4 linked regions of the Homo sapiens genome follow. The protein of the gene in region 1 purifies or fractionates together with the protein of each later gene. This does not show direct contact. Each region holds a gene or a part of one and is shown in the gene's direction. Other genes may lie near its edges.

Region 1 (3,170 bases):
GTTCCCTTCCCATTGTCTTTTAGTTTGGCTCACTGTCTCACTGTGTGTTTGTCACTGTCTCATTGTGTGTTTGTTTTGTCTTCCTAACACTACTATATGATTTTCAAGGGCTACCTCTAACCTCACCCACTTGTCACCTCTACCTGATAATGATGGCTCATTTAAGAGATGATGATCAATAGCAGTCCAGTTTATGGATACAACCCAACACTCACAGACAGGTTGATTCCTGGGTCATTTGGCCAGACTTTGAGACATCGAGGCCGACCATCTGATATCCAGCCAATGGGCTAAAAACACACTTACTGTGCTTTGCTTCTTATCCTAATCCCTTTTCCCAGGAGGCCACCAGAGAAGATTTAGATGTGCAGGGGAGGGGACAGCAGGCATATATGGGCCAATTGTGGTAGGGAATTAAAATTGCATTTTAGATGTTGATTCAATTCACTTTATATATATGTTCACACTTTCATGTCTTTGTGACAGAAAGATGATTAAGGTTCTTTCTGTCCAGGCTTAAGAAATATGATGACAAACAGCATGTGCTACATACAGCAGGATGCGGCCCCTGTTCCGGATGGAGATATGGCTTTCAGAACTCTTTACAGTACCATTAAAGTCACATATTTCTATAGTCCCAAATATGCTTGGCATTTATTTGCAGTATTTATAAAGTTTAGTAAAATTCCACATTAAACCTAACATGATCTAAGATGTTCGGTAACATGGCCTCTATGCAATGCTGAGCTGTTTCTTTTACTTGGTACAGATTTGATGAGAAGAGAAATTCCATGGAGCCAGGCTTTCCCAAGCAAATAGCTGAAGACTTTCCAGGGATTGACTCAAAGATTGATGCTGTTTTTGAAGAATTTGGTAAGAGGATACTTACTGTGTTGGCCATAGAGCACTTGAAACATTTTATGATATCAGAGGGAAGAGGAGCATTGAAACTTTTTAATAACAAGTGTTTCTTAGGGCCAGTTCCCTTCTCAAAATTTTGATTCGCCTACATTTGTACTCATTATAGAACTACTTCACAAAATAACTTGTTTGGAACCATAAAGATAATTACACAAATCTCGCTACTTTATCTTATACATGCATATAAAATCAAAGTGCTCCAGTGTCACTTACATCTCGAGCTAACATGTGGAGTCAAGCTCGACTTTCAGATTACCATGTTAGCATAAAAATCCCATCAAGTGGTGTGGCCAGGTTTAATGTTGGTTAGCTGGCCTTCTCCTCCACCCTATCTTATTGCTGCTACTAATTCCCAGGGAGATTTTTTGTCTGTCTTTCCTGAGTTGTCAGTCATTGCCCATGCCAGTCATTTGCAAATACTTACCTTTCCATGTGCCCAAAGTTTAAAAAAAAAAAAAGATTTTGTTTTCTACTCAAGGTAAGGAAGTGGAGGCTGATGATCTTTATTGAAAGGTAACCTGATCACCATGTTTGCAGAGCACTAAAGGGTCCCCTGGTGTTTTGAAATAGTTGCTGTGCTTCCTAGGCTGCAATGCAGGGAAAAGGGAGGAGGATTTTTGGGGAAGAAAGAAATAGGTGATGAGAGTTTCCAAGCAAGTGGAGAATTTATCTGATCGGAAGCAGAATAACCCTGTAACCTGGAATCTGGCTGTGTTTTCAGACAGAGCTGGCACCGAGTGCTGTCTCCATTCTTCCTTGCTGAGTAACCTTGAGGAAGCATCGAAATCTGTCTCAACCTCAACTTGCTCAATCTGTAAATGGAGTTAGACATACAACCTCATAGGGTTGTTGCAGAAATAAATGAAAATAAATTCATGTAACAAGCTTGGCATAGTCCCTGACATAAAGTAAAGCTCTATAAACACTTTCTATTTTTAGTTCTCTATGATTCTGAGTTTTGTATATTGTCAAATGTCTTTATTTGGAAAAATATCTTACTATTTCCCTTGTCTGTATTTGCAGGGTTCTTTTATTTCTTTACTGGATCTTCACAGTTGGAGTTTGACCCAAATGCAAAGAAAGTGACACACACTTTGAAGAGTAACAGCTGGCTTAATTGTTGAAAGAGATATGTAGAAGGCACAATATGGGCACTTTAAATGAAGCTAATAATTCTTCACCTAAGTCTCTGTGAATTGAAATGTTCGTTTTCTCCTGCCTGTGCTGTGACTCGAGTCACACTCAAGGGAACTTGAGCGTGAATCTGTATCTTGCCGGTCATTTTTATGTTATTACAGGGCATTCAAATGGGCTGCTGCTTAGCTTGCACCTTGTCACATAGAGTGATCTTTCCCAAGAGAAGGGGAAGCACTCGTGTGCAACAGACAAGTGACTGTATCTGTGTAGACTATTTGCTTATTTAATAAAGACGATTTGTCAGTTATTTTATCTTATTGTTGTGTTTGTTTGTTTCAAGGGCAAGTTGTTCTCATAATTTGGGCACTTTATGGGCTGAGCATGCTCAGCCAGTAGACTAGAGTCTCCATGGCTTGGGGTTCACAATGGGTTCCAGAACTGCAGAGAATCTACCACTTGCCCTCCTCATGAGCCCTGCAAACAGGATGCTTATTTCTACCACCTAGACATTTTATGTGTCCTGACATACCTAAGGCAAAAAATCTAGAGGGGTTGTGACATTGTAGAGCAGGCTCTAGGAAAAACTGTGAAGGGAATCCTATAATCATAGCAAATTGCCTTGTTTGCACATCTCATTTTACAGGGTGAGGAAATCAGACTTGTTTTTCATCTTTTCCTTTTACTTATAAATTCCCTCAGTGCAGGTCCCTCCCCTGACCTAGCAAGCAAACTTCCTCATATCTACCCTATTCACATGGTAAAATATACTCTTGTACTCATTTTGTATCTGCCTGTGCCTGGATGTAAATGCCCATTGGCAAATGACGATTCTAACATTGGTTTATCATCCATAACTAATGTCTCTAGCACAATGCCTCGTACATGGTAAGAGCCGTTTTTAACTTATCCATTCATCTGAGAGTAATTTACAAATCATATTCCATATGCCAGGCATTATGCTAGGTTGCAGGCATAAGAATATGAAAATAATAGACACAGGCCCCTGCCCTCATCGAGATTATAATCCAGCGAAAAGAACACGTGTAGATAACCACAAATATAAATACGCAATTGTAAATTTCATAAGAGTTATAAAGGGAAAAAAATAATAG
Region 2 (3,500 bases), on another chromosome or scaffold:
TGTCTTCTCATTCTCCTGCCAAATCCTGCTCCTACCCGCACCCAGACATCACCTAGCAGTGCTGGGCCCTTACCGCAGGGAAGAAGTAGACCTCCTCCCCATCCTGTCTCTGGGGTATCCCAATCCTTTTAGCCAGGCGATCCACTCAGCCTCCCCTGCCCATGCTGCATCCTCAGCCCCTTTCCCCAAGGCTAGTCAGCTATCCCTCTGCCTAGGGGAAAGACTAAAGGAATTGGGAGACCTGGCCTAAGAGAGGTGACAGGGAGACACACTTTGCATTCTCTCTTGGAAGGCACTGGCAGTGAGAAGCAAGGTAGGGTAGTGGTAGGGAGTCACCTGATGAAGGGATGGGTAAAGATGGGGCCTGTGTCTGGCTGTGGTACCCAGGCTGGCCTGGGCTCTGCACCCTGTAGATCATGCAGCACCTTTCTACCCAAGATAAGTGATGCTCACTGCTGTACTACAGCCTCCCAGACCTCTGATGGGATGTGTGTGTGTGTGTGTGTGTGTGTGTGTGTGTGTGTGTGGTGTGTATATGTGTCTGTCCACCCCACTGGTGCTGTGCATGGCCTCTATGCATGAAAATGCATTCTATGGGCACTGGGTGTTGTCGGGGGATGTGGCACCACATTCACTATGCATATCAAACATTTGCTTCATGTACATTGCATTTGTTTTAAATGTTGAGTGTACATTGGATATATGGTATGAATGTGTTTTGTATATTCATGGCTGTTGTCTGCATGCAACTCGTATGCACCTTCCCTCTGTCTTTCATTTATGCTGCATGTGCCCTGCATGTGGGTTATTGTATATGTGTATCATGGGTGCGGCATTCCTGTTGAATGTCTATTGTGTATCGCACATATCTTGGGTACTACATGAATATTGTATGCACTTGGTATTGTTCCATTCATTCTGCAACATTGTTTTCTACCTGTACATTACATGCATATTTCATGTGTTTCTTGTGCATGCTATATGCTTCATGTGGCATCCATGCCCATGCACCACATATGTTACGTGTAAACTGTGTGGTGTGTGTGTGGCGTGTATGTTTTGGTGTTCTGCCTTCAGACAGTTCTGCACAGGCCTCGCGCGTGCAAGTGGCCATCCAGACCCTGGATGAGAATGACAATGCTCCCCAGCTGGCTGAGCCCTACGATACTTTTGTGTGTGACTCTGCAGCTCCTGGCCAGGTGAGCAACTGAGGCAGAGGGGTTGGGACGTCCAGGCCTCCAGCAGCCCACTCCATACAAGGCCTCTCTCTTCTTCCTCCCAGCTGATTCAGGTCATCCGGGCCCTGGACAGAGATGAAGTTGGCAACAGTAGCCATGTCTCCTTTCAAGGTCCTCTGGGCCCTGATGCCAACTTTACTGTCCAGGACAACCGAGGTAGGTGGCCTCCTACAGCCATGTCCATACCTGCCTCTGTCCCCTTCTCCTCCTCCTCCACCCCTAGCCCAGCCTGCCTGACCCCTGCCCCACCTGCCTCGGCCTTCTACCCAACAGAAGATGGGTGTGGACTTGTACTCATTCGTTGGCTCTTTGTAAACCTTCCCCATGGGAAGCTGGCTCTATGGGCTGGACCTATGGGCTGGCTCTATGGGAAGCTGGCTCTATGGGCTGGACCTATGGGCTGGCTCTATGGGGGGCTGGCTCTATGGGAAGCTGGCTCTATGGGCTGGACCAACCCTACCTGGAAGGTGTCCCAGAAGATACCTCAACACCTTCCCTCTCCCACAGATGGCTCCGCCAGCCTGCTGCTGCCCTCCCGCCCTGCTCCACCCCGCCATGCCCCCTACTTGGTTCCCATAGAACTGTGGGACTGGGGGCAGCCGGCGCTGAGCAGCACTGCCACAGTGACTGTTAGTGTGTGCCGCTGCCAGCCTGACGGCTCTGTGGCATCCTGCTGGCCTGAGGCTCACCTCTCAGCTGCTGGGCTCAGCACCGGCGCCCTGCTTGCCATCATCACCTGTGTGGGTGCCCTGCTTGGTGAGTCAGGCCACAGTGGTACATAGCTGTGCGATCTGGGCCTGCAGGGGTGTGGAGAAGAACCAGGCCTCTGGACACAGGGAAATCCACCTTAGGGCTTGAACGACCCTCATACCTGGATTTTCCCACCACCTGATGCATCCAAGAGAAAAGCTCTGGCCTCTATCCGTGACCTGCCAATCCATAATGACAATGACAAGCCATAACAATGGTTTACTGAGCCCCTACTCTGTGCCAAGTATAGTGCTGGGCACGTCACTTGTGATATTTCATTTTATTATGTCAACAACCCTTAGAAGTAAATATATTTTCCCTATTCTCCACATAAGTAATCTAAGGGGCAAATTGAGGCTTCAGAGAAGTCTAGCAACTTCCCATGGTCACATAGCGAGTAAGGGCTGAAGTCAGGATTCAATGCAAGGTTTGCTAGATGTCAGCCCCTAAGCACAGGGCTTCTGTCACCTGATGGGTCAGCCTTTCACATGGAGACAGGCCGCCCGCTCCCGGCCCTGCTGGCTCAGGGCCTGTGTGCGCGCCTCTCGCGCAGCCCTGGTGGTGCTCTTCGTGGCCCTGCGGCGGCAGAAGCAAGAAGCACTGATGGTACTGGAGGAGGAGGACGTCCGAGAGAACATCATCACCTACGACGACGAGGGCGGCGGCGAGGAGGACACCGAGGCCTTCGACATCACGGCCTTGCAGAACCCGGACGGGGCGGCCCCCCCGGCGCCCGGCCCTCCCGCGCGCCGAGACGTGTTGCCCCGGGCCCGGGTGTCGCGCCAGCCCAGACCCCCCGGCCCCGCCGACGTGGCGCAGCTCCTGGCGCTGCGGCTCCGCGAGGCGGACGAGGACCCCGGCGTACCCCCGTACGACTCGGTGCAGGTGTACGGCTACGAGGGCCGCGGCTCCTCTTGCGGCTCCCTCAGCTCCCTGGGCTCCGGCAGCGAAGCCGGCGGCGCCCCCGGCCCCGCGGAGCCGCTGGACGACTGGGGTCCGCTCTTCCGCACCCTGGCCGAGCTGTATGGGGCCAAGGAGCCCCCGGCCCCCTGAGCGCCCGGGCTGGCCCGGCCCACCGCGGGGGGGGGGCAGCGGGCACAGGCCCTCTGAGTGAGCCCCACGGGGTCCAGGCGGGCGGCAGCAGCCCAGGGGCCCCAGGCCTCCTCCCTGTCCTTGTGTCCCTCCTTGCTTCCCCGGGGCACCCTCGCTCTCACCTCCCTCCTCCTGAGTCGGTGTGTGTGTCTCTCTCCAGGAATCTTTGTCTCTATCTGTGACACGCTCCTCTGTCCGGGCCTGGGTTTCCTGCCCTGGCCCTGGCCCTGCGATCTCTCACTGTGATTCCTCTCCTTCCTCCGTGGCGTTTTGTCTCTGCAGTTCTGAAGCTCACACATAGTCTCCCTGCGTCTTCCTTGCCCATACACATGCTCTGTGTCTGTCTCCTGCCCACATCTCCCTTCCTTCTCTCTGGGTCCCTGTGACTGGCTTTTTGTTTTTTTCTGTTGTCCATCCCAA
Region 3 (3,078 bases), on another chromosome or scaffold:
CTGGTAATGGCACCCACCTCCGAGGGCTGTCAGGGAGAGGAAGGGAGAGAATCTGTCTTTGCACTTTGTTCTCTGCCCAGGGGAGCTCTGTTATGCCCATTTTACTGAAGACGAGACTGAGGCTCTGAGCGGCAGGTGAGGCCTATAGCCCAGCAGCGCCTTTTTCCTCCCCTCCTGGTGGCTCAGGTGTCGGGAGACAGTTCGACCGGCACCCCCGCACCCCATAGCCCCGCCTTCTCAGATGCTGTTCTAGAGGCCTCCCTGCTCCCTGAGCTGAACAAAGGTGACTTTAATCTCCGTAGCCTTGGGCTGGGTTTTTAGGGCACCACCAAATCTCGGGAGAACAGGCCTCCCTTGATCTCATTAAGAAAGCATTTTCCTTTTAACCCAGCGGCGCAGTGGAGCGTCTGCAGGGGCTGGCCCTCCGCCTCCCACGGCATTCCTGGGCTGAGATTCTGGGGAGGCCAAGGGGCTGGGTGCGAGTCTGTGCGTGTGGCTGCCCTGGGGTGTCTATGGGTGCTGCAGGAGGGGTGCATGCATGGAGAGGCGGAGACCCAGCCTGCCACCCCCTTAGCTCTGGGCCTCACCCTAGTGAGCATGTGCCCAGGGCTGGGTCAGGCTGGATAAGGATCTGAGACTACCAAGGTGTTCCAGGGCCTCTGCGGGACCTGTGTGTACAGGGAAGGAAACTGAGGCTGGGTGGGCATCAGGGGGTTGTCCCTTGGTCAGAGCATTGCCCGTACACCCTGGGTTTTGCACTCAGCCATGCCAGGGTGCGCCGGGCGGCACGCGCTGGGCGGGCCGGGCAGAGGAAGGAACATTCCTCCCCGTGTGCCGGCAGGCCCAGGCGGGCGCCGGCGACTCCTGGCCCCGCCCTGGCGGCCCCCTCCTCTTCCGCAGAGCGCTCCTGGCAGGGGGCGGCCGCGTGCTGGCACAGGTGGGCTGTGGCCTTGGGCAAGCCTGGGTTTCCTTGCCTGAGCAGTGGGAGGGGTGCTGGGCTGCATGGGTACTGGGGGCCCCTGACCTGGGGGCTGGGGACACCTGAGGTTTCCTGCCACAACCCTGCTGACCGTTGGCAACTTTGCAGAACTTCAGGGCTGCTTTGGCTCAGAGTGGGTAGCTTGTCCTGCAGGTCACCCAGGACAGGGGTGCTGGCCCAAAGGGCAGCTGTGGGGTGGCTGCAGTGCTGGTGGCTGCACCCTACGCGCGGGACCTCATGCCCAGCCTGGCCCGGTTAACCAGGCCAGCTGTATGGTAATGGGCGGCGCGGCCACTCTGCTTAACTCGGCCGAGTTAAGGCCGGCCCGGCGCCCCTCTCCCGCCAGCCCAGGACAAAGCTGGCGGACAATGCCTGGTGATTCATCCTCCCTCCAGGCCCTTTGTCCGCCAGGGCTTGGCAGCCGCCCAGCGAAGGCCTTTGTCCCCAACCCCGAGTGATTGAGACTTGGCTTCCCACAGCCGACCTCCTCCGCCTGTCCCTCCCGCCACCCCGCCTGTCCCCCGCCTTTCCAGCAGCCTCCAAGTGGCAGGCTGGGTGCTGTGTCAATAAGGGTGTGTGCCCTGCCAGGTGCACGGGGCGGGTCGGGAACCGGTTACCTGGCGGGCGGGCGAGGCGCACCACCTGGCTCGTGCCTCACCGCGCCTGGACGACCTTGGGTGCAGCTGTCGAGGTTGGGGAGTGAGGCCCCCATCCCCCACCCCCAGGGCGAGTGAATGCGTGAGCTCTGGCCCAGATGGCACTGAGATGGGGCACTTGAGCCCTTCTCAGCACGAGTGGGGAAACCAAGGCCCGGAGAAGGGTGGGTGTCAGTGTGACGCAGCTGCAGCTGCAGCAACTCCAGGGCGCCCCGTCCGGCCCCCACAGATGGCCCTGGGGTGGGGATGAAGGGCTGCCTGCTGAAGGCCGATTTTCTCCTTCCAGACGTTCATCTTCACTGACGGGGAAGATGAGGCCCTGGCCAGGCACACGGGTGAGCCCTGGACTTGGGGCGGGAGGGGGCCCAGGCCTCCATCCAGAGCCGAACGCTCCCCCTCCAGTCTCCCTGCCCCTCTGGGCCGAGAGGTCACCAAGGGCAGGACAGGGAGGGCAGTTTACTCATGGGGTTTGCTCCATGCCCCGCCCCACCACTCGGGCCCCCCAATTCTCATGCAAATGAAGCCCATTCAGCCCCCCGGGTCCCTTTGAGCCCAGGCAGCGGCAACAGGTGGCGGGTGCTGGGAAAAAGCTGCCTGAATGGGCGGGGGCGGGGCCGCCCTGGAAGGGGCTGGGCTGCGGGAGGGTCCACAGGCCCAAGCCCCGAGCTAGGGTGGGGGAGGCTACGGCCGCCGGGCCCAGCTTGAACTAGGGGGCTTTTCTCGAGCCCCTGGGCCCTGTGGCGTCCCCCAGGCCAGGCCCCTCTCTGGGAGCCGGCTCAGACCTACTCACAGCCGCTCCCCTGTCCACAGGCAACGTGGTCATCACAAACTGCTCGGCCGCCCACAGCCGCCAGGCGCTGTCCTGCAAGATGGCCGTGGAGTATGACCGCTTCATCGAGTCCGGCAGGAAGTGAGTGTGGCCCCGGGGGACCCCCATCTCCCTGCCCGAGCCTGGCAGCGCCCGCCCCGGCATGCCCTCCCCCGATGGCCCTGCCTTGTCCTCAGGTGGTTCTGCCACGTGGACGATGACAACTACGTCAACCTGCGGGCCCTGCTGCGGCTGCTGGCCAGCTACCCGCACACGCGGGACGTCTACGTCGGCAAGCCCAGCCTGGACAGGCCCATCCAGGCCATGGAGCGGGTCAGCGAGAACAAGGTGGTGAGTGCCTGCCCCTCCCAGTCCCCCACGCCCACGCGGAGCGCACACCCGGAGTGGGGGTGGGACCGTGAGGGGCAGCAGCGCCTGGGTCTCAGGACACCTTCTCCCTTCTCCCAGCGTCCTGTCCACTTCTGGTTTGCCACGGGCGGCGCTGGCTTCTGCATCAGCCGTGGGCTGGCTCTGAAGATGAGCCCGTGGGCCAGGTGAGTGCCCTGCACAGGTTAGGCCAGCCCGGTCCCAGGCTCCTCGCCACTGTGGGGCCTGGCTTAGTTCATCTTCCCAGC
Region 4 (3,500 bases), on another chromosome or scaffold:
TACAAATGATTTGGAGGTATGTTAACTCACGGTTCAGTGGAGAGGATAAGATACTCATTCTCTGCAAATAAGGAATTGAGGCTCAGCCAGGTAACATGACTTACTTGCCTCTCAAGGTCAAAGAGCTGGATGTAGCAGAATCAGGAATAAAACTGAGGTCTTTTAAATGTAACAAGGATCTGTTAGCCGAATGCACCATGTTGTTTTCTAATATTTCCTGCTACTTTCTAATCAATGTGCCTTAAACCATACCAACAATACAAAAGTCCATCATTAGCGGTTCTTTCTTTCATTCCAGGCCAGTTCACACCTTTCCCCATTTCCACCTACATCGTTATCTGAAAATCCTTCCTTCTGACATAAAGTCAATGATCATATGAATAAGTGATCACTATTTTTTGTAAAATAGTTCAAAATATGCCAGTACTTAAATCTTTTAAGTCATTTATTTGCCTTGTGAATAATCCTGTGATTGACAAAATAGTGTTTTGAAGCATTCTTGTCTCATAAGGATAGTGGTGGCATTTGAAAGTTGAAGAATGCTAAGAACAGTATCCCCAGTTCTAATACAACAGGCTTTATTCTGTTCTACAATTTTAATTCCATAAAATTGATAAAGGCAGTCACTCTATTCATTTTACAGAACATGAAGTATTTATTTTATGGACTCAAGTTGGAGTAACCAAAGAGGTTTGCACACAGTGACAGGATGCAGTGTTTGGGGCCCAGTTCTATTAGGCATTATAAATGCCCAAGATGAGAGTTGTAACCATGCAGAGTAGTGTTTTCTGAATATTTGGAAAGATTCTTCTGGTCTAGTACAAGATGGTAGAAGAGAGGGTTAGCCATCCTGGAGTATGAACTCGGCCTAAAACATTTCCAGTTTAGTTGATTTGTTGGAAGGACTTAACGTGGCAGGTGGAGAGGTCATCAGCAGCATCCCAGCAACTCCAAGTACAGGGAAGAAAGAAACGTACCAAACACACAAGGTGGATGGGGTATGGTGCTTGTTCTCATAACAGTAATAGCCAGCCTTCTAGAGCAGTGGCTCCTCAGGCAGCCATTCATACTTTATGTGTAGCATGCTTTGCAACAGTGAAGCTCCACATTTCCCACACCTCCATTTTCCTTACACTGTCTTTGCCCATTCTGCTTTTCCTCTTTCGCAATTCTTTTTGTGCTTTCCTTTTCTCTTTTGCCTCTGAATCCAAGATTTGGTGAGTTGGGTAGAGAAAGAGAGCTTCTGCATTTGTATAATTTCGCTTTGACTATAGCTTAAATGATTATAGAATTAGTATGTAAGATGACTTCTCCTTATACACCTATTATATCTAATGTTTATAATTCAGAAATATCTTGTGCCTTGAAGAATGGAATAAAATTGGCTGAGCTTGGATTCCTGTTGTGAAATGCAGGTGTGGAAATTCAAAACCATTGTTTACTCAGGCATCCAGTCTTAATCAAGTTAGAACATTTTACTTAAAATTAATATGATTAGGCCAGCCATGGTAGCTCAAACCTATAATCCCAGTGCTTTAGAATGCTGAAGCAGGAGGATCACTTGAGGTTGGGAATTTGAGACCAGCCTGGGCAATACAGCAAGACCCCGTGTTGCCCAGGCTGGTCTCAAATTAAAAAAAAGAAAAATTAAAAAATTAGTTGGGTTTGGTGGCCAGCGCCTGTAGTCCCAGCTACTCAGGAGGCCGAGGTGGGAGGATCACTTAAGCCCAGGAGGTCAAGGCTGCAGTGAGCTGTGATGTTACCACCGCACTCTAGCCTCGGCAACAGAGGGAGACCTGTCTTAAAAAAAAAAAAAAAAAAAATTAACATGATTAGCTTTGTTCACTAGGTGACTTTGTTTTGTTTTTTTAAACTAGGAAACATGTTCAACCAAATGGCAAAGTGGGTGAAACAGGACAATGAAACAGGAATTTATTATGAGACATGGAATGTAAAAGCCAGCCCAGAAAAGGGGGCAGAGACATGGTTTGATTCCTACGACTGTTCCAAATTTGTGTTAAGGACCTTTAACAAGTTGGCTGAATTTGGAGCAGAGTTCAAGAACATAGAAACCAACTATACAAGAATATTTCTTTACAGTGGAGAACCTACTTATCTGGGAAATGAAACATCTGTTTTTGGGCCAACAGGAAACAAGACTCTTGGTTTAGCCATAAAAAGATTTTATTACCCCTTCAAACCACATTTGCCAACTAAAGAATTTCTGTTGAGTCTCTTGCAAATTTTTGATGCAGTGATTGTGCACAAACAGTTCTATTTGTTTTATAATTTTGAATATTGGTTTTTACCTATGAAATTCCCTTTTATTAAAATAACATATGAAGAAATCCCTTTACCTATCAGAAACAAAACACTCTCTGGTTTATAAAACACCTTAATTCTACTGCTCTTTTTTCTCCAATCACCAGCATCTGTTTTTCAGGGGGTGATTTTACTTTTGTGAATTCCTTAGCCTTTCTTCCTTGGTGCATAAAGTTAAAATGCACATCAGCAGAATTGCTGCATATTAACATCTCAGGACTCTTCTCTTGTAAAGAAGCTGAAATTCGTACTATATTGGCCAAAGTGAGCGAGTTAGGTGATCTTGGTTTCAATTTCCGAGCCTTTGTTAATATGGAGAATTATGGTTCATATCAGTTATGTAGGACCTTTGGACCCAGGGTCCTACAGATAGATATGGTGTGCCCAGATTTTAAAAATACCTTCAAAAATAAAAAATACATTCAGTGACATTTTCATGGTGGGAGCTCTTCTTTCTGATATGGCAGTTACACTTTTTCACTTAAGTGCTTTAGTTTAGACTAACTTTACAACTTCTATAACTTTTGGAACCAAGTTTAGTATAGTCTGATTACATTCCATTCACCTAACTTTAGACATTCGTTTAGACACCATAACTGGAGTGATTGTGCTTCTAGATGTGGCAAATCCAGTGTTAACACATATTTCTGGCTGAGATTTTGGAACTAGCTAGTAACTGGCTTGTGTTCTTTAAGCATACTAACATCACTAAATCTTAGGATTTAGGATTGCTGTAAAGATGTAAGTTGTGTATGTTTGGCAGGTCACATTGAATGGCAGTGATAATGATTAATCAAAGAACAAATGTCATCCTTGATCTTGCCTAATGTAGTTTATGTGCCAAACTTTCCAGGGTTTTGTAGTCACCTAGATTTTAAGCTGATAGCATAGTGCTTCAGCGGTTCTTCTAACCGGGGTATGCAGGAACATGGCTGCAGACACGTTTGGGTAAACAGGCACCTTCTGACTTCTTCATTGTTTCCTGTAGTTCTCCCTCTTCCCACAAAGCTGTCAGCGCAGTGGAAGAGGTTGCACTTCTCCGAGAGAGGACAGGTTTCTGTTAAGATCACCAAGTAGCTGTGCTTTAATTAGAGCCAGACAAGCTTTCAAGGTCCTTTAAGTATTTGATGATCAACTGAACACGTTTCTATTCAAGGAGAAAACACCATTCAGTAAGA

The links.
Region 2: the proteins of MMP3 (region 1) and CDH24 purify together in Homo sapiens (co-immunoprecipitation; one large-scale study listed by IntAct). This does not show direct contact.
Region 3: the proteins of MMP3 (region 1) and LFNG purify together in Homo sapiens (co-immunoprecipitation; one large-scale study listed by IntAct). This does not show direct contact.
Region 4: the proteins of MMP3 (region 1) and CLN5 purify together in Homo sapiens (affinity purification with mass spectrometry, with the first as the bait; one large-scale study listed by BioGRID). This does not show direct contact.

The regions. Positions count from the first base shown.
Region 1 is NC_000011.10:102,835,001-102,838,170, reverse strand, and holds the end of MMP3 (stromelysin-1 preproprotein), read left to right. Parts: intron 1-769; coding exon 770-873; intron 874-1,404; exon of another isoform or gene 1,405-1,733; intron 1,734-1,944; coding exon 1,945-2,045; 3' UTR 2,046-2,370; downstream 2,371-3,170. UniProt on the Homo sapiens protein: Metalloproteinase with a rather broad substrate specificity that can degrade fibronectin, laminin, gelatins of type I, III, IV, and V; collagens III, IV, X, and IX, and cartilage proteoglycans.
Region 2 is NC_000014.9:23,047,521-23,051,020, reverse strand, and holds part of CDH24 (cadherin-24), read left to right. Parts: intron 1-1,077; coding exon 1,078-1,199; intron 1,200-1,282; coding exon 1,283-1,394; intron 1,395-1,745; coding exon 1,746-1,994; intron 1,995-2,541; coding exon 2,542-3,041; 3' UTR 3,042-3,500. UniProt on the Homo sapiens protein: Cadherins are calcium-dependent cell adhesion proteins. They preferentially interact with themselves in a homophilic manner in connecting cells; cadherins may thus contribute to the sorting of heterogeneous cell types.
Region 3 is NC_000007.14:2,522,774-2,525,851, forward strand, and holds part of LFNG (beta-1,3-N-acetylglucosaminyltransferase lunatic fringe), read left to right. Parts: intron 1-1,921; coding exon 1,922-1,970; intron 1,971-2,445; coding exon 2,446-2,545; intron 2,546-2,640; coding exon 2,641-2,794; intron 2,795-2,911; coding exon 2,912-2,997; intron 2,998-3,078. UniProt on the Homo sapiens protein: Glycosyltransferase that initiates the elongation of O-linked fucose residues attached to EGF-like repeats in the extracellular domain of Notch molecules.
Region 4 is NC_000013.11:76,998,581-77,002,080, forward strand, and holds part of CLN5 (bis(monoacylglycero)phosphate synthase CLN5), read left to right. Parts: intron 1-1,877; coding exon 1,878-2,389; 3' UTR 2,390-3,500. UniProt on the Homo sapiens protein: Exhibits palmitoyl protein thioesterase (S-depalmitoylation) activity in vitro and most likely plays a role in protein S-depalmitoylation.